2 separate regions of the Homo sapiens genome follow, and region 2 is linked to region 1. Evidence: fine-mapped expression QTL. A gene starts in region 1. The other region holds a variant in brackets. All regions are shown on one strand. Distances are from middle to middle.

Region 1 (9,817 bases):
CTAATGTCTAATACACAATGATTACAGTATAAATTTACTGTTAAACAGAGGCTGACCTGCAGGGAAATGCAAATAAACTACTATAATGCTGGTGGCTTAATCTATTGCTTTAACAACCCTTTCCAACTGGAGACTCCTTGAAGATGAATTAGTTCAATGGACGGCACCTTGCAAAAGATCTGCCTCCTAGGCTTCTGCAAGTGTGCTCAGCTTGCCTCTATCTCTGCTGTGCCTCAGAGGCTGCCCCAGCCCCGCTGGGAGAAAGCCCCCTCTTTATTTAGTTTCCGGAGCCTTTCGCCAGAATGGCATATTAACTTTTGCCTTATAATGTAATCCTCCAATCTTAAAACATCAAAAGGAAAAAGAAGGAGAAGGTGAAAAAGAAGGAGTAGAGGAAGGAGAAAAAGAGGAAAAAGAAAGGAGGAAGAAGAAGAGGAAGAGGCGGAGAAGGAGGAGGCAGTGGCAACGACGACATTTCCATGTGTTCAGCTTCAGGAAGGTATCAGTAAGTGGATCCTTGCCTGTGTTAAGCAGTTGCGATGTCCGTGGCTTTTATAAACAAGATAATGCACATATCATCAGAAAAAGAAAGATTTTTTTTTGTACCTGTTTCCTGTCTATTTTAGAAAGGAATCTGAATCAAGGATTTTTGGTATGGCTTCCAAGTTTTAGGACAAAGCTATATTAGTATACCAATTTAGTAGCTTATTATAAAGATCTTGGAAACAATTGATAATTTTTTCTTAACATTAAAAAATGACTTTTGTAAAATGTGTATACCATCGTTCCTACTGACACCAAATTAAAAGCAGGTGTAGTCTCAGGAGCTCTTTCTGTTCACAGGCTTCCCTGGTGAAAATAACTTCTTGCCTTGGAACACCTGAACAAAAAGCAGAGAAAAGTGTTTTTTTTTCTTTTTGCTAATGAAAAACAAATAAATCTTCAGTCAGTATATAATAGTACTTGTGTATATGGTGAGATATTTTAAAAGATGGTAGCTAGCAGAGTCAGTTCCCTCAACTCTACAGTTCTTTGCATCATTCCCTTTTATATGTTCCTTAGGCAAATCCTGAGTCAATGCAGACCAAAGCCATGAGCGCAATTAATGGAAGAAATGCATTTTCAGCAAATGGATGGCTGCTATAGTTAGGAAGTGAGGCTGAAATGGATATTGGAGAAAGATTTAGTGTTGTGTAGAATTTAATATATTGCTAGTAACATGGGTGAAGGCTATCTTTATCAAGTGTGACCTCTTAGCTTCTGTGTCTCCAAGCATGGGAAGTCCTAGCTTGTTAAAGCTTAAGCCTGCCTCCCCTATGGCTAAATGAACAAAGATGTATGAGACTTTTAACCAGAATGAAGGGGCCAGAGTCTTTGGACAGCAAATGGAGTGAAGCTAACTGGCCCTCCTAGAACTGAATCCATATCCTTGGCCTCATTGAGACCACTTGGGCAACTGGCTACCATGAATAATACAACATAGCAAATGAGATACTGACTTATATGAGTGTGGACATTTTCATTAGCATTTTAAAACTATAGCAATATTACTGTTAAAACACAAATAAGAGGCCCTCTTATGTGAGAAAATCCTTAGGACCAATACTTTGAGAACCTCCAGAGGAGAAAATAAATACATGAATTTTATTTCAATAGTCAATATTGAATAACAATATTTCAATGTCAGGCCTTTAAAATTGTATATGTAAAAGGTATAAAAGTGCTATAATGATAAAAATGAAAAATTTCTGATTTGGCCCCCACTACAGGCTCTCCACCTGCTGTTGATATTGGCTGCAGAGTGCCCCAACATTCAAATACAGCAGGCTTTGAGGTCTGACTTTGAACCATGCCAGTATCCCAAAGGTATTTGATTTCCCTGTTGTGTGCACCTAATTGAAGTCATAATAATGGCTGATAGCTTTCTCCAGAGGTTTAGAAACCTGGGAGGCTTTGGGTTTTTCTTTCAAAATGTAGTAGCTACAGTACCCTCTAAGACCTAAGGTCCAAGTCCTCCGGCTCTCTACTAAGAGTAACTGGTCTTGAGAGAGACTCAGTTTAAAATATAGGCTGTGTGGAAGCAAACCCAATGTGTATGGGGTATGGGGGCATGGAGGTGGTGTATGAACCTGATGTTTTCCACTTTGCTGTTCTAGAAGCAAGGCACTATAGTGGAGAAAGTACTGAAAAGTATTGAGATTGTTTTACTCCAAGTAAGAGGAGATTGTGTGACTCCTTTTACTAGATGTATGAATTTAGACAAGTAACTTACTATTAGTTTATTCTCTCCCGGTCTTAATGGGTGAACTAATAGCAAAACAAGTATCAAAGCACAGTGTCTGAACTACTATTTATCTGTACCTGTATGACTACAGCATCATTATTGGTGCATCTTTGGGAAATCTTAGAGAATGGAAGAAGTACCAATAGATTTCAAATAGAAGTAAATGTCCACCTTCCCCAGTTTACAGTCTGAAACAACAGCCTGAGACTCTTTTATACGCTGAGCTCCAGAACAATCTTAGATTTTGATAATTAAACAGCTTACTTTTGGGAACTCTAAAGGAACACAAAGACCATCAGGAATCCAAGTGGATGCACCAATGGTGTTACAGAACTCCATTCTTACTTCTTTTGTGGTAGGGTTATTTGACTGATGCGGGAGGTGGTGTCCCAGATTACATATCTGTATTTCAGTAAAGTATGTAAGAAAGGCATTTATAGTAGCCCTATGAACAAGAAGAAATTTGGGCTGCAAAATAATATATTTATGTAGGTTATTTTTTAATTATAACTTTTATTTTAGGTTCAAGGGTACATATGTAGGTTTGTTACATAAGTAAACTGCATGTCATGGAGGTTTGGTGTACAGATTATTTTGTCACGCAGGTAATAAGCATAGTACTCAATAGGTATTATTTTTCTGACTTAGGTAAGTTCTTGATCATTAAATAAGCATAATCAAAAGTATGAAAGTTAATCCAACAGGGCCTCTATTAGTATTCTGAAGGTATGCCATATTAAGCATAATCAAAAGTATGAAAGTTAATCCAAGAGGGCCTCTATTAGTATTCTGAAGGTATGCCATATCACAGGTTAGTAATAATTAGCACCTTGCCTGGCATACTCTAGCTTTAAAAATACCTTAAAGGTTCACATATAGAGACATCAATACATGATTGGGTATTACAATTGGAAGGAACACACACACACCCACCCACACACACACACACACACACACATATTTTTGAGACAGAGTCTCGCTCTTGTTGCCCAGGCTGGAGTGCAATGGCATGATCTCGGCTCACGGCAATCTTCACCTCCCGGGTTCAAGCGATTCTCCTGCCTCAGCCTCCCAAGTAGCTGGGATTACAGGCATGCACCACCACGACCGGCTAATTTTGTATTTTTTTTTTTTTTTTAGTAGAAATGGGGTTTCTCCATGTTGGTCAGGCTGGTCTCGAACTGCCGACCTCAGGTGATCCACCCGCCTTGGCCTCCCAAAGTGTTGAGATTATAGGCGTGAGCCACCGTGCCCACAGGTACTCAAGCACTTGCATGTGATCAAGATGGAGAAGAGCTGACTTTTGCAGTTCACGTGGGAGGAAAAAAGTAAATCTAGAAATTCTAGTTAACTCCAAACACAGTGAGTGTCATTAGTGTTTCTCCAGAAGCCAATCCAATATTAGGCTGCACATAAAGACTGTCCAAAACAAGGACGGAGAGCACAACAATTCAGGAAGAAGACCACCTGGAATGCTCATATGGCCATCAAAGATGACATAGGCTCTGGAAACTATACTACAGGGAAAGTTGGGGCTAAGAAGAACCTTGAGCCAGGAGAAGAAAAGAGTGGATGGTGGGCCATAGAGGCAAGCATGGCAGATGCCTTCTAAGAGGTGAAGGGCCACAATGTACAGATGGTTTGACTTATTCTAGGCGGGTTTCAGAAGAGGCACAAGGCCCAAGCTGAAGCCTAGAAGGTAGCAGTTTGAGTACAATACAAGAAAAAAACATTTTTCTTTGCATTTCTGATGTTCATCAGAACATATGGGACGGAAGCTCAGGAAAGAGATCTTAAGGTAGCATCAAGAGATAGATGTCGTCCACAAGGAGGCGGTATATGAAGCTGTGAAATGGCTTGGGGTTTCCAGTGTCTTCCACCATCATCAGCCCAGAATTACCACCTTCCCAGTTGCACTTCCTCCTAAATCTACATCTCTGGTGCCTTTTGCCTTGAACAGTCTCTTGCCTTGGAGCTTCTCGGCCATCAAACAGAAGGGGGCACCCTGCACCGTCAGTCAAGGCAAGGACCAATCTGGCAATCCCCAACCATGGAAAAGGACCTAAGGCTGGGTGGGATGTAGGAGCCTTCCAGGACCTGGAAGGGAGCCTCCTGTAACTACTCTCTACTCCCTTTAGAGTCCACAGGGCTGGAACTCTAAATGCAGAATAAGGTTAGGGGTGGGCAGAGAGGAAGGGTTGTGATGCCACCTGACTTCCAAATTGAGGGTGGCACAGGATCCCCCAGAAGCTCCCTGGGGTACAGAAGTCACAGCAACCCTGGACAATCCAGGGGTTTGGTAAAGTGTACTTACCAATTTTGAAGAGGGGAAGGGGTTCTCTTAAGGTGTAGAAAGGACTATCCAGGGAGTTGCAAACTTTGTTGTAAGTGGACAATCACCCTCGCTCCTCACTGCACCGTCTTCTCCTTGCCCAACAATGCACGCGGGTCCTAGCAAGGTATTCGAGTCCAGATCTCTCTCTCTCTCTCTCTCTCTCTCTCTGTCTCTGTCTCTCTCTCTTTCCTCTCTCTGTCTCTCTGTCTCTGTCTCTCTCTTTCCTCTCTCTCTCTCTCTGTCTCTGTCTCTCTCTTTCCTCTCTCTCTCTCTCTATCTCTGTCACACACACACACACACACACACACACACACACACACACACAGGCAAAGTGGGCAAAGCGGGCAAAGCGAGCAAAGCGAGAGGGTTGGTACCCAGTCTGGGCGCGCTGGAGCTAAGCAACTGGCCTTTGTTTGTGAATTGGAGCAGTTTAGGGGACATCCTCCGGTCGCCGCGGGGCGCGCGCCTCCGCTGAGTGTGCGGTGCGGTACCCAGCGGTGCGGGGGAGGCTCCACCGCGCCAGCCCAGGGCCCCCGCACCGCCCCCGCCAGCTCGACGCGCCCAGCGTTGCGCTCTCCACGGAGCGGGCGGCCGCAGCGCACTTGGCTGGGGCGAGAGGCGAGAGGGGTGGGCGGACTGCTTGGTTGGCGTTGGCGCTCTGCAGTGCAGTGGAGTGTTAGCCCAGCTCCCTATATGGTCGGGGATTAGCTTGGCGCTGCTGAGGCTGAGGCTGAGCCAGGAGCTGGAGGAGGAGGTGGAGGACGAGGACGAAAAGGAGGAGGAGAAAGAGCGCAGCAGCAGTCAGCGCACGCCGAGCGGCTGCCGGGGGAAGCAGAGGCGCCGGAGGCTGGGGCACCGCCGACGCCTCGGGAGCCATGGCCGAAGGGGGAGAAGGAGGCGAGGACGAGATCCAGTTTCTGAGGACTGTGAGTCTCCGCGGCGGGGGCGAGGCCGTGGGCAGGTGGGGAGGAGCGCGGAGCGCGGCGAGGAGGGGCTGGCTGCGCTGCGCCGCGGTGCCGGGTGCCCGGTGCCGGGCGCTTTCTCCGCACCCGCGGGCTGCAGAGGCGGACCGGCCACCTACCCGCGGGGCCGCGAGGGGCTGCGTGGGAAGGGGCACCATCTCCTGCCTCTCCCTTGTTCCCCTACCGCCACCCCTGCCCCAGGCCCTCCACCTAGGACCGCTCGCTCTCCAGGCAACTTGCTACTTGGTCTGAAACCCTTGATGCCCAAACTTCAGCCGGGGTTTGTTCGCGGTTGTCCTGACCCATAAGATCGGCGTTGGAAGCCCTCGCCCCGGGGTCGGCCCTCTGACACCTCCATACTCCACCCCAGCCCCATTCCTCTTCCAGGGCGCCCCCACGCACAGGGGAACCTCCGGGAAGGAGCCAGCGGGGCAGGGGGGAGTGTGGGGAGCCGGGTCGGAGAAGCGGGCGCAGGCGCTTGGTCCTAGCCCTGGGATCGCTCGGAGGGGAATTCACCCAGCGCTGCCCCTCTCGTGTTAAGCCCCACGCCGGCAACTGCTGCTGGAGCCTGACTTGACTGACTGCCTGTCGTGTGTTCGAGAGCTGTGGCTTCTGCTCCTGGCTCCCGCGAGCCCCGCAGGACAGGGAAACCCCAGTCAGTGGCTCCGCGTCACTCAGGTCCCCTCCTTGACACCTGAGGGCGCTGCTCCGTCCCAGATTTGGGGGTGAGGGGGCGAAGTCTGTTGCAGCCACACCAGCCTTGCCCTGTAGGAGATAATACAAAGACTTTCAGGGTGGACGGCCACCCGGAGGGGTGGGGGCATTGGGGATGCATCCTAGCGCTGACTTCAGCCAAGTGACCTTGAGCAAGTCGCATAATCCGCCCTACTCAGCCTCAGTTTCCTCATGTGTAAAATAAAATGTAACCAGCGTTTCAGGGTGATAAGGATTAAACGTTATCGTGAATGTCATAATGTTTTGTAAACGGCAAATCGCTCTGTAAATCTTAGGTAATTTTATATGCGCTGCCTTGCTCTCAGGAATTAGAATGAAATTCTTTCTTTCCCTCTCTCACTTCCCTTTAAGGGTGCCCCCTTCTCCATGACCTGGTCTTCGAAGATCACAACTTACCTCTTGTCCATCTTTTGAACCACTCTCCTCCTGTTGAAGCGCTTCCTTCCAATTTACTTCAGTTTCTCTTCCAAACATGGTTCTTTTGTCAAAGCTGGGACTTGGGTCTTATTTGGGGGGGGTATGGAAGTACCTATCGCCCTGCTGGTACTACTGAGAGGCTAGAGTATTCATCTCTTCATCCTTCGTCTGACCTGCAGACCCAGACTCCATTCTCATCTCTCACACTGCACACAAGATGGCCCCACAGTTGCAACTCATGACAACCCTATTGTTATAAAGCTGCCTGCTCCCCTCAAAGCTCCATCAAATCCTTTGGTTGTCCCTCTGACAGGTGTCTTTAGTAGTGGATGGGTGGCAGCTCAGGTTTTTTCTGCCTTGTGTCCTCCATGATCAGTCATTTCTTCTCCTTATTATTAATGATCTTCTAGGCGTTATTGCTTGAAAAAATTATCTTCAGACAGGGTCAGTGTTGAATAGATGTCCCAGGGAGTTGAGGCTTAGGAAGGTGGTAGTTGTTGTGAGATCCTTATGCTTTTCTCTTGGCTTCTGAGCCATCTTCCCTGACTTTTCCTCTCCATCTGGCATTGTAAGTGTTTTTTGTTTTTGTTTGTTTTTGGTACACCTGTAGCCAAGGTTTACTATAGTAGTGGTTCTTAAGTTTTGTGTCCTGGGCTTCCTGCCCTAGAGATCAGAGCTGGCAGACCTCTTTTAAAGTACACCCATGACAGCCTGTGGGGTTCAAGGACCCAGGTTCAGAGCCCCTGTTGCAGAGAACTGCATACCGGTTATGGCTTAGAGCGAGTGATGGTGGTAACCATGGGGGCAGTGACTCCAAATGTGGCGTTATTGGTTCTTTTCCTTCTAGTTATCACCTTATGTATTTTTTAAGGTGTGTTCCTCATTTCTTCACCCTATGAGGCACCTTAACATCTTTGTTTTTAGCTCACTGGGAAGGAAATAGGTGATGAAACTGAAGCACAGGAAATCGAGTGACTTGAACATAGCTGTTGACAAGTTATTGGTAATTTTCATTATACAATGTTCAATTACATTCCCGCTAGAGCCTGGCATTGAGCGTTACGCCAGATGTTATATATAGTCTTAAGAATATACCTAAGAACATAAGAGGAGTACTGCAGCTTTCTGAGCTTGGCATCCTCCTTCTTCATCTGTGAATTCGACAAAATGATTTTTTGGAATCCAATAGCCATAAGCTTTTGATCTCTGCACAAAATTTTGACTTTAGGGTAGTTGGGAACACCAGGCTTGTGCTAGCAGTGGGATTTTTCTCTCCTCTGGGTATGTCTGGGTTAGGGAAGCTATTTCACTTTGAACTCACTCAGTTACCTTTGCCTTAGGCTTTCTTTCTCCTCCCCAGACAACACCTTTAAAAGCATTTTGGCAGTGTATTAGTCATATATAATGCTTCCTCACATCGACATGGTCCTGGATGAGAAGGTGACTCATACTGGACCATGGAATAGAATCATATCTTTGTAACCATGAACTTTAAAGGATTGCCATCCCAGAGAGCAGAAGCTTTTAACCTATTTACAAAAAAAGACCATACAATAGCATTATGCCAAGGATCCTAATCAAATTGTTAGTGGTTGTAGTGTCAGGTTTGTTATAATAGTGCCAAAAATGAAAGCAGCTAGAACTATTGATAGTGTGAAATGAGCCAGAATTACTGCAGTAACCACTGTAGGTGTGTGTGGTGTGGCTTTAGACACTTATTTGTGGTAGTGTTTATTTTGGTTATGTCCTCTGATACATTTGGAAGCCCACCCTCTCCTAAGTAGGGAACAAGACCTAAACAAGGGCTTTGGAAGCTTAAACACATGTGAACTAAATGCTACTGTACCCCAAGCCTTAAGGAGGCAGTCTAAAACTATATACCCTCTTCTGGCCTTCTGAAATCACTGACAGTCATGTATGCCAGTTAGAATCAGGCAGATAGACAGAATCTTTAAGGCTAAAATTTTCCCTCCCACTGCTGTTGGCAGTGGCATCCTCCTCTCTTCCGATTGCTCTTGCTGACGTAGCCAGTGTCATTGACGTGGCTCTGAAGCTGCTCAGAAGCAGATAAACCTGCCAGCCGCTGATCTGAAAGCAAGAAGTTATGGTGAGAAGAGTGGCAATTACCCCATCTTCAGACAGTCGGTGGAGCAGCTGGCACCACATTCTGCTTTGAGAGTGCTAGGAGAAAACTTTTCTCTCCTACTTTTTCCTTTAGACTACAGTATCCATTTAAAAAACACAAAACGAAACAAAACTCTAATCCTTAGCTTATTGTTTTTAAAATATCACAGTCTTCTCCTTGCCAACTGCCTTTCCACCACAATGTTAATTGAAACAGAACTCAGAGCCAGGCGCGGTGGCTCACGCCTGTAATCCCAGCACTTTGGGAGGCCGAGGCGGGTGGATCACGAGGTCAGGAGATCGAGACCATCCTGGCTAACACGGTGAAACCCCGTCTCTACTAAAAATACAAAAAATTAGCCGGGCGTGGTGGTGGGTGCCTGTAGTCCCAGCTGCTCGGGAGGCAGAGGCGGGAGAACGGCGTGAGCCCGGGAGGCGGAGCCTGCAGTGAGCCGAGATTGCGCCACTGGACTCTAGCCTGGGCGGCAGAGCAAGACTCAGTCTCAAAGAAAACAAACAACAAAAAAAAAAACCAAAAAAAAACAACAACAACAAAAAACGGAACTCAGAGTGAGATAGACATTTGTTTGCATTAGTTTCAATTAAAGGTTGGTCATAGACAGCCTAATTTAGACCTCCCCATAGAAAGTTGTCCTCCTTCATCTAAATTTGCAGCTCTCGAGGGATGAGAAAAGGCACTTGGGCTGAAAATCAAGGATTGGTCCCTTGTCTTGGGTTCCTGCCTACAGGGTGCCCAGGACAAATTCCTGAATTTGAGCTGCAGCGCTCACGTGAGCTCATGTCTCTCGTCCCTCCCCAGAGCGCGCTGTCTTGTGTTGGAATGACAGTGAACTTGTACCTGGTGGTTTATGGATGCCTGCTTTCTTCTCTCTGCGGCAGGGCCCATTTACATAACAGCTGCATGAAGCCTGTGTTTTGGTAGATTTTCTTTAAGGAGAT
Region 2 (9,817 bases), 69 kb before region 1:
TAGAGGAAAACCCAGGTTTGGAATAGGAAAAACTGGCCATGTTTCTTTGGGTGGTGTCTGCCAAAATTGATCCCGGTTTCACTGTTTGAGAGGAGTCATCCTGGGCTTTGGATCTAGGTAAGAGATCAGAGCCAAGAATTAGGTAACATAATCTGAGAGGCTGATGAAAGGTGCTTTCCTAAGTTACGCGGTATCTACGATTCATATCCTAGACTCTTACTAACATTCACAATGCTCAACATTTAAAATCCATAATTGCTAAACTTATAAAGAACCAGGAAAATGTGATTCATTTTTAAAAGAAGACAATCAATGAAAACTAAGCTGGATATAACCCTGATGTTGGATTCAAACTGCAGTTTGTGTCTTGGTGGCAGCTCAAGTTTCAGTTGTGGTCTTATGTCCTCAGCTGGGCTGCTCACACATTGCCCTGAGCATGCATGGTTTGGAAGTCCAGTCAGAGATTCAGGTATAGTTTAGACACAGATTTAGGAACTCCCCATGTCTGACTCTCTACTTTTTCCCCAGTATCTTTGGCTGCCTCAAACTCTTTATTCTCTATTTTGTTAGTCCAAAAAGACTATAGGTTTTCTCTGCTGGTGCATCTTACACACCCAGTTTGGTCTTTCTTCAGGCTAGAAACTATAAAAATAGGGGAAATAATGCCCATCATTCTCTTTTTCCAAGTGCCAGATCCCTTCCAGAATCTGCTTGCTTTTATTCACTCGCCAATACCTTCTGTTCATTGTTTGTTCATTTGTTTTATTTTGTTTTGTTATCCTAAGTTTCATTTTATGCAATAGGATTGAGTCCATTAATGGAAATGCCTGTAAATAATACCAGCAAATAATGCCTGCAAATGCTTGCAAATAATTCAATAAAGCAAGAAAAAGAAATAAAAAGATAAAGACTGAAAAGGAAAAAGTACAATTGTTATTATTTATAGTTGAGAAGCTAAAAGAAATTTTTAGAATAGGTGAATTTAGTGAGATTAATGATACAAGTTCAATATATAGAAACCAATTGTATTTCTATGCACTAACAGTAATCAATTAAAAAATCAAGGCTGGCATGTTGGCTCACACCTGCAATCCTAGCACTTTGGGAGGCCAAGGTGGGAGGATCGCTTAAGCCCAGGAGTTTGAGACCAGCCTGGGCAACATAGTGGGACCCTGTCTCTATTTTATTTTATTATTTTATTTTTATTTTTTGAGATGGAGTTTCGCTCTGTCACCCAGGCTGGAGTACAGTGGCATAACCTCCTCCTCCCGGGTTCAAGCAATTCTCCTGCCTCAGCCTCCCAAGTAGCTGGGACTACAGGCATGTGCCACCACACCTGGCTTTTTTATTTTTTTTATTTTTTTATTTTTAGTAGAGACAGAGTTTCACCATGTTAGTCAGGCTGGTCTCGAACTCCTGACCTCAGGTAATCCACCTGCCTCAGCTTCCCAAAGTGCTGGGATTCCAGGCATGAGCCACCACACCTGGCCACCGTCTCTATTTTATTTTTAATATTAATAAAAAAAGAAAATCAAATTAACACAGCATTCACAGTTGCATTAAAAATATTAAATACCTAGGAATAAATCTGATGGAAAGTGTATAAGAACACCACACAGAAAACTGTAAAACGTTATTTTGAGAAATTAAATATCTAAATAAACGAAGGGATAAAGATATCATGGTGTGTGAAACTATTGTTTATTTTTATTATTCTTTTTGAGATAGCATCTCACTCGGTGGTCCAGGCTGGAATACAGTGGTGCAATATATCTCACTTTTACCTCAACCTCCTGGGCTCAAACCATCCTCCTGCCTCAGCCTCCTGAGTAGCTAGGACTATAGGCACACACAACCATGCCCAGATAATTTGTTTTATTTTTTGTAGAGATAGAGTCTTGCTATGTTGCCCAGGCTAGTCTCGATCTCCTGGCCTCAATAGAACCTCCCCCGCCCCACAGTCTCCCAAAACACTGACATTACAGGCATGAGCCACAGCACCTGGCCATGGAAAATTATTGTTTAGATACTAATTATCCTCTCACTTTATCTATAGATTCCATGTAACTCCAATCAACATCTCAGCAAGGTTTTTTGTTTTTGTTTTGGTAGAAGTTGAAAAACCGATTTTAAAATTTATATAGAAATTCAAGGGGCCAAGAAAGCCAAGATAATCGTGCAGAATTTAAGCTACCATATCAATACTAATTATAAAGCTATAATAATTAGTGTAGTTTTGGCACAAGGATAGGAACAGAGACTAATTGTACAGAATAAAGCATCCAGAAACACTCACACATATATGGTCACCAGACATAAAATAAGACACCACTGCAAATGAATAGTATCTTCAATAAATTGTGCTGGATCAATTGGATATCCATATGGAAAAAAAACCCCACAAATTTTAATCTCTACCTCACACCACAGAAAAGAAAATAAATTCCAAAAGAATGTAAACCTGAGTAAAAGGTAAATGATAAAAAATTCTAGGGGAAACCACAGAGAGTAGTTTTATGACCTCTAAAAGGCAGAAAGCAAAAAAGAATGGATTGACACATTTCACAGATTAGATTTTTTTCTAAATTAATAACTATTGTTTATCCAAAATGTCATTAAGAAAGTAAAAAAGGAAAGCCTCAGAATAGACTATAATACACACATTTGACAAAGGATCTTATGAAAAAAATAAGGAACTCCTACAAATCAATTAGAAAAAGACTAACCATCTCACAGATGCAGGCGAAAGACATGTCACAAAAGAGGACATTCAAATTTCCAAACTGTGTGAAAAGCTGTAAGACATCATTATTAATCAGCAATAAAATGCACATAAAATATCATTATTGAGTAATAAAATGTTTTTTAAATCAAAATTGTATACATCACTACACCCTTCTGCCAGAATAGCTAAAATCATAAAGGCTATAAATACTGAGTGAAAGTAAGGATGAGGAATAGCTAGAACTCTTGTACATTTTTTATGGGAGGGGATATTGGTACAGGCACTTTGGAAAATTGTTCAGCTTATCTAGTAAACCAAAGATGTATATACTCTGTGACCTAGAAATTCTATTCCTTGGTATCTAACCCAAGAAAAATGAGAGGATACATCCATCAAAAGACATGCACAAGAATACTTGTAGCAGCTTTATTATAAATTTCCAAACTGGAAATAAGCAACATGTTCCTTAAGAGTAGCATAGATAAATTGTGCCATATTTCTATAATAGAATATAACAGCCATGAAAAAGAACAAATCATGCAGCAATGCGAGTGAGTCTTAGTGAAAGCCAGACACAATCAAGAACATACTAAATTTATATAAAGTTCAAGAATGCTTTAAAAAGAAAGAGATGCAAGTCAGGCTAATGGTTACTTTTCCAGGAGTATTGACTGGGAGGAGGGGACAGGGAGGTTTTCGGGAACTCAGAATGTTCCACAGCTTGATCTCAGTGGTGTTATCATGTATAAAAATTCACCAAGCTATATAAAATTTGTGCACTCTATGTACATTATATAATGCAATTGAAAAGTATAAATAATCAAAAGGAAAGTGTGACAAGTCCTGAGACATACAGTCTATGGAAAGAAAGTATAAAAGGGCATCACTGGGGCCTCTGGTCAGTCTGGTGGACCCACTGCATCCTGGGAAAGGGGACAGCACACACACATAAAGGAATATTTCTGGGCCCCTAGTCCTCTTTTTACTACGTTTCTTCCTCTCTGAACATAGCTCCAGATAATTTTCAGGAACTGCATGCCTCTGAGGACATGTGAAAAGAACATTAGGGCCGGGCACGGTGGCTCACGCCTGTAATCCCAGCACTTTGGGAGTCTGAGGCGGGTGGATCACCTGAGATCAGGAGTTCGAGACCAGCCTGGCTAACATGGTGAAAACCTGTCTCTACTAAAAATACAAAAATTAGCTGGGCGCAGTGGCACATGCCTGTAATCCCAGCTACTTGGGAGGCTGAGGCAGGAGGATCGCTTGAACCTGGGAGGTGGAGGTTGCAGTTAACTGAGATCAGACCATTCTACTCCAGCCTGGGCGACAAGAGTGAAACTCTGTCTCAAACAAACAACAACAATAACAACAACAAAGAGAAGAACATTAAAAAGAGATTTTTTTTTTTTGAGACAAAATCTCACTCTGTTGCCTAGGCTGGAGTGCAGTGGCCTGATCTTGGCTCACTGCAACTTCCACCTCCTGGGTTCAAGGGATTCTCATGCCTCAGCCTCCCAAGTAGCTAGGATTACAGGCGGCCGCCACCATGCCTTGCTCATTTTTGTTTTTTTTTAGTAGAGACGGGGTTTCACCATGTTGGCCAGGATGGTCTCGATCTCCTGACCTCAGGTGATCCACCCGCCTCGGCCTCTCAAAGTGCTGGGATTATAGGCATGAGCCACCGCGCCTGGCCAAAAAGAGGCTTTTAAAACACCAGTTGCTGAGGAAGGCAAGAGGAAAGCCTGAATGCTGTTGGTTTTCCAGTCTGAACCATGGAGCGGAGGCTGAAAGAGATGACTTGTTGGAGGCCATTTACACAGTGACACACACTGTGCTGAGAAGCACCCCGCCCTTCAAAGGCCGCCTGGACTGCCGGACTGCTACTGCAGTCTGTCAGGGAGGCCATTTTTCTAAGCTTACATTTGTTTTTCAAGAAGCAGCGTCTCCTTTTCCTCTTTCATCTTCCTCAGAACTTCCTGGTATTTCTTTCCATGAAGTTAAAAAATAAACAAAGTCATAAATGGAAAATTTCCATATCTCATCATGATGTCATTGATAAAAACATTCTGCTAATTATTTTCCAAACAATATACTCATCAGTATGCACACACCAGTGGGGGAGGGGTTCTAATAAAAAATTCAAAGATATTAGTGACCGGAAT[G/C]GATGTGTATGAACAAAAAGAGCTCCCTCCCATTCAGGTCCCTGCTTGTATTCAAATCCCAGCTCTGACGTTTACTAGCTGTGTTCCCTGTTACTAGCTGCATTCTAACTTCCTGAAACCTCATTGTCCCCTTGATCATAACTGTCACGCTCATAGAATTATTGAACAAATTGATTGAGAAAAATACTATAGGCTGAGTGCTTAGCACAGTACTTGGCACAAAGTAAATCCTTAACATACATCCGTCTTCTTGTTGCTGTTGTATACAGAGCATTTTCCCTAGTGACACATTCTAGCCTAATGAAAAACCAAGGAACCCATGGCCTTGGAGATATTCTGCCTCTACTCGGACTTTTCCTCCACATGGGTTGCACCTTTATGTAGTAGACCTGGTCCTTACAGAGGTCAGACACAGATTGGTAGTCACTCTCTATCTAAAAAGAAAGAAAATTAACAAACCTCATGAGTTAAATCAGAACCAAGCCCAGTCTCCTCCCTGGGGCCCTACCTGGTGCACTGGCACTTGGCTGGTTACCTAGCAACTCCTGACTTGAAGGAAAAACAGTCACATCACAAAGAGGTGATCTCATCATTAGGCACAGGGTCTGGTTTTAAGCAAAGGAAATATTTTGCCCAAGTTGTCATCTGCCTCTCATGTGAAATACCAGGGGACGTGTCAAGGCACTTTGGTTTGGAATTCAACAATGGTATTTGACACAGAGATGTAAGAAATGGTAAAAGCAGTATTTTTAATAGAAGTTTTCTTTCCCTTCAGCTGCATAAGAATGCATAAGAATCAGAAATTCATTTGCAAGATGTTTTTGTACCTCCCCCTCCTATGCCTCAAGCAGATCTGTTTCTAAGACCCTTGGGATTCTCTCCCATTCTATCCCGGGCAGACCCTCAGTGGAAGAGACATTGCCTCTGCCTTGGCCAGTTCCTCCTCTTGCTTTGCACAGGACTCTGTTGACTTCTGTAGTCTTGCCTGTGGAAGACAATGAGTGACGGCAGAAAGTTACTAGCATTCTTTTATGGAAGGGAAGTGGGTAATTACCATATCCAGACCAGCAGAGGGCATGACACTAATGGCTATCATGTTGAAGACATCTGATAACAATTTAGGGTGGGCACTTGTTATTACCCCCTCCCCTCTCCATTTTACAAATGAGGAAACAAAGGCGCAGAGAAGTTGAGTATGTAACTTGTTAAAGTTTAAAGTGGCAGAGCTGACATTTACGCCTCAGTAGGCCAGTGCCCATTCAGTGAACCCAGCCATCCTCCTTCCTCCAGGCCTACTGACCAAAGCTCACAAGCCTCTTCCTCCCACTCATATTTCATAGGGTGCACTGGCATGTCCCCTGAATCACACAGAAAATAAAAGAGAAACCTGGGCCAGGCGTAGTGACTCACGCCTGTAATCCCAGCACTTTGGGAGACCAAGGCAGGCAGATTGCTTGAGGTCAGGAATTCAAGACCACCCTGGCCAACATGGTGAACTCTGGCCAATGTGGTAAAACCCCATCTCTACTGAAAATACAAAAATTAGCCAGGTATCGTGGCGTGTGCCTGTAGTCCCAGCTACTCAGGAGGCTGAGGCAGGAGAACTGCTTTAACTCCCGGGAAGCAGAGGTTGCAGTGAGCCGAGATCTTACCACTGCACTCCAGCCTGGGTGATGGAGAGAGACTCCATCTCAAAAAAAAAAAAAAAAAAAAAAGAGAGAGAGAAACCTGGTTTCTCTTTTTCTGAGAAATACATAAGACAGTGGAGCTCTTGTATAGTGGGCTCAGTTAAATTGCCACACTCACCACATAAGTATGCAGAGAGCTTCCTAATAGGGGTTTTCCCCACTATTGGGTGTCCAGTGTAGTCATTCATTCAATATATATTTATTGGGCATCTACTATGTGCCAGGCACATAGTTCTAGGCCCTGGGGAAACAAATGAACAACATAGGCAACAATTCATGTTCTCAATGAGTTTATCTTCTAGCAGAGGAAAAAGATAACAAAATAAATTTTAAAAAAACTTCTTTGGCCTTTGAGCCATGGGTTGGAAATCAGAAGATCATGACACATCCCTGTATGACTATGGGAGTCAATATTTTCTTCCTATTGAATATCTTATTTGTGTGTCCTCACTTAAATAATAAGCTTCTGGAGGGCAGGTCCCAATGGGCATTCAGAACATGTGTTTTATCGACTGATGGAAGATGGGGACTCTGGAGCAGTTCCCTCCACTTTGATCCACTGCAGTCATCTCTGCTCCTAGTGTGACTAGTGATGTCATAAATGCCCCCACAGGCCATGGGATTACATGCAGAGAATAAAGGACAGTGACTCATCTCTGATAAGTACACAGACATAACCAGTACATACCCTAGGGTAGTCCTTGAGAGCAATTTCTCACAGGACCTAGAATTGACACATCTCCCAGAAAAATCTGTTTGTTTTTTCTACTCACCTTCATTTCCTCCAGGATCTGCTTTGTGGTTTCTTCTTCAAGGCCAATATTTGTAAATAACCCTGAAATCTAAAATACCATTCAAAAAATCATGAACTAAGTAAGGCACACAGACATGAAAACCTGGGCCAGTGGCAGACTGGGGTCCCAGGCTGCAGATGGTGGTTACTAATTCGGGCCCTGGATAGAAGCTTGGAAGAAAAGCATCTCCTTCTCTCTGTGGAGGCTGCCTGACTCCATGTGGGCTAGACAGACTTTTCTGTTCCCACAGCCCATGGAAGAAAGTGCACAGTGAGGAGGGGAGGACAATGAGAAAGGGAAGAGAGAATGGGGCAGAGTGGGAGGAGGGATAAGTCTTTTCCCCCTCTAAAGCCCTTTAGCCCTCTCACCACAATCTGTAATGCCCAGAGAACAATTGGCAGCAGCAGTGCAGAGGGAGCATGCAAACTTTGCCAGTTGCTCCTTCTTCTCCAGTCTCTGTGATTACAGAGTTCTGGAAGATAACTCTTATTGATAAGATTCCTAAGAAACGAGGCTTGTTTCCAGGGCATGCTTTGCTATGTGGAGAACAGCCTTTCCGTTAACGTTTATGTATATCTTTTCTCATTCTGAATGTGCCTAGGACCCCTCCTGCATACTCCCAGCCCAGCCCACCAGCCTTTCTCTTGTGAAGACACAATGTTCTTAGGGACTCGGGGACCCTAAAAAACCCAGGGCTCCCCTTACCTTTTTCTGAACCTCCACCACATTCCTGCTTAGGATTGCGTTACTTTTCTCCTGTGGGGAAAAAGAAAGTCAAGGGAAGAAAGTTGCTCTGCCGTCATCTCTCCCCCTTCATCAGGCCACTGGAATAATATCTGGGGATTAGTCTATCAAGTCGGAAAAGTGCACTCTGGCTCACACAGCAGATCTGGGAAAAAAGCCTCTTCGGCCCCCATGCCCAGTGCTTCATTCCCAGAACACTCTCTTAAACAGCCATGATTTGAGACACAGAAGCAATGAACATGGGATGAATTCCTGGGAAGGAGAGCAGCAGAATGCAAACAAAATGCATCCAATGGTCCTTTTCTAGACACCTCCTTACCAGCTTTGCTGTCTCTAATTCCAGCTCCCTCAGGGATTCCTCCTGTTCATCTATGACATAGTTCAACTCCTCCTCCTCTTTGGCTTCTTCTAGTGACAAGGCCAGCTTTCTTTCCAGGCTGAGAAATATAAAGTCACCCAGGTGTGGCTCAGCCCCTAAGAAAGCTGCCAGGGCCCCAATTTGAGAAGCTACTTTCGAAGTCTCAGGAAGTCAGAGTAACTACCAAATGCAATGGCGATAAAATGTCAACCTAATGTGAAAATTTAATGCAAAAATCTATACCTGAAGTATTTTGAGGGCACTGTAGTTCATACTTTAGGATTTAAATAAAACGTCAAGATTCACCATCAAATAAGTGAAACTTTCTTCCACCTGTATCCCAAAGGACCTGCAGGGGCGGGGAGGCCCTTCCCCCACCAACCACAAAGCCTTACCTTGAAATAGTTTCTTCTTTCTCTTTAATCTTTCTAAGGAGAACCTGATTCTCCATATCCAGTTTCTGCAGGTCCTTTTCAAGGTCTGAATTCAGGCAGTCAAGGTTCTGTTTTACAGCTTCTAATGCTGGTAATTATATCGTCTGCTACCTACAGAAAATCATCTTTATCACCAACCTCAGGACAGGAAAACATAGGAGCCCTAAGAAGACGTTCCCCTATAGTTTCACTCATTCTCTTATCTTCTGTTGTTAATAAGCTTAACCAGCCTTATTTTGTTTTCCATGATAAATTGATTTCTACACTATTTTGCATAAAGTAAATTCCTGGAGTGGAGCCACATTTTAATTTTAAATACTATAAATGGAACCCACTGAAACAAAGCTTTCATGAAGCAAAAAAAATATTTTTTCTATGAATACTTTAACACACTTGTTTTAAAATATCTTAGATGAAGTATGCAGAATCCAAGTGATACCTCTAAAGCATTTAGAGACCTGCAAGGGAAAGGCTTCTCCTTTTGCTATCTTCTAACCTAGTCAGGCAGGGACATGGGCTGAGTAGAGGCCAAAAGGGTGATGAATCTTTTTCCTGCCAGACTGATTAGCTGTTTGAGACACTAGAGATCTTTGAAAATCCCATCATTATTCTGATGAAGAACAGAGAACTGAAGCCAAAGTTTCTTATCCCTAGGAAGCCTCCTCAGACTTGAGGAGATAAATTCTCACACAGTGGAGTTCTTCCTTACTGGATTGCTGGAGACTCTTCCCGTGGAGCTTCCTCTACTGAACTCTTTTATTATTCCCATACTTACACATCATCCAGTGGATTCTGTCCAACGTCTTCCATCATAGCGTCCCTAAAATGTGAACACAAACATCCGTTATGGAAAAGCCCCTAACAGCCAATGCAGTAATTGCCCCAGGAATGAGCAGGTAAAAGGTAGAC

What was found. PIP is the estimated chance that this variant, and not a neighbour inherited with it, causes the effect.
Region 2: its variant is fine-mapped to the expression of RYR3-DT in putamen (GTEx, PIP 0.99).

The regions. Positions count from the first base shown.
Region 1 is chr15:33,305,552-33,315,368 of GRCh38, forward strand. RYR3-DT (RYR3 divergent transcript) reads right to left here and starts at 5,108. Exons shown (of 3, transcript NR_120327.1): 1 at 5,027-5,108; 2 at 781-880. It overlaps RYR3 (ryanodine receptor 3), which reads left to right and starts at 5,416. Exons shown (of 104, transcript NM_001036.6): 1 at 5,416-5,545. The coding sequence starts at 5,495. RefSeq lists enhancers at 5,637-6,148, 6,149-6,658.
Region 2 is chr15:33,236,886-33,246,702 of GRCh38, forward strand. It overlaps the pseudogene TMCO5B. Among named protein-coding and RNA genes, the nearest start is that of FMN1, 47 kb to the left of the region's middle. RefSeq lists a silencer at 1,340-1,509. The variant G/C (reference allele first, on the strand shown) is at 4,891.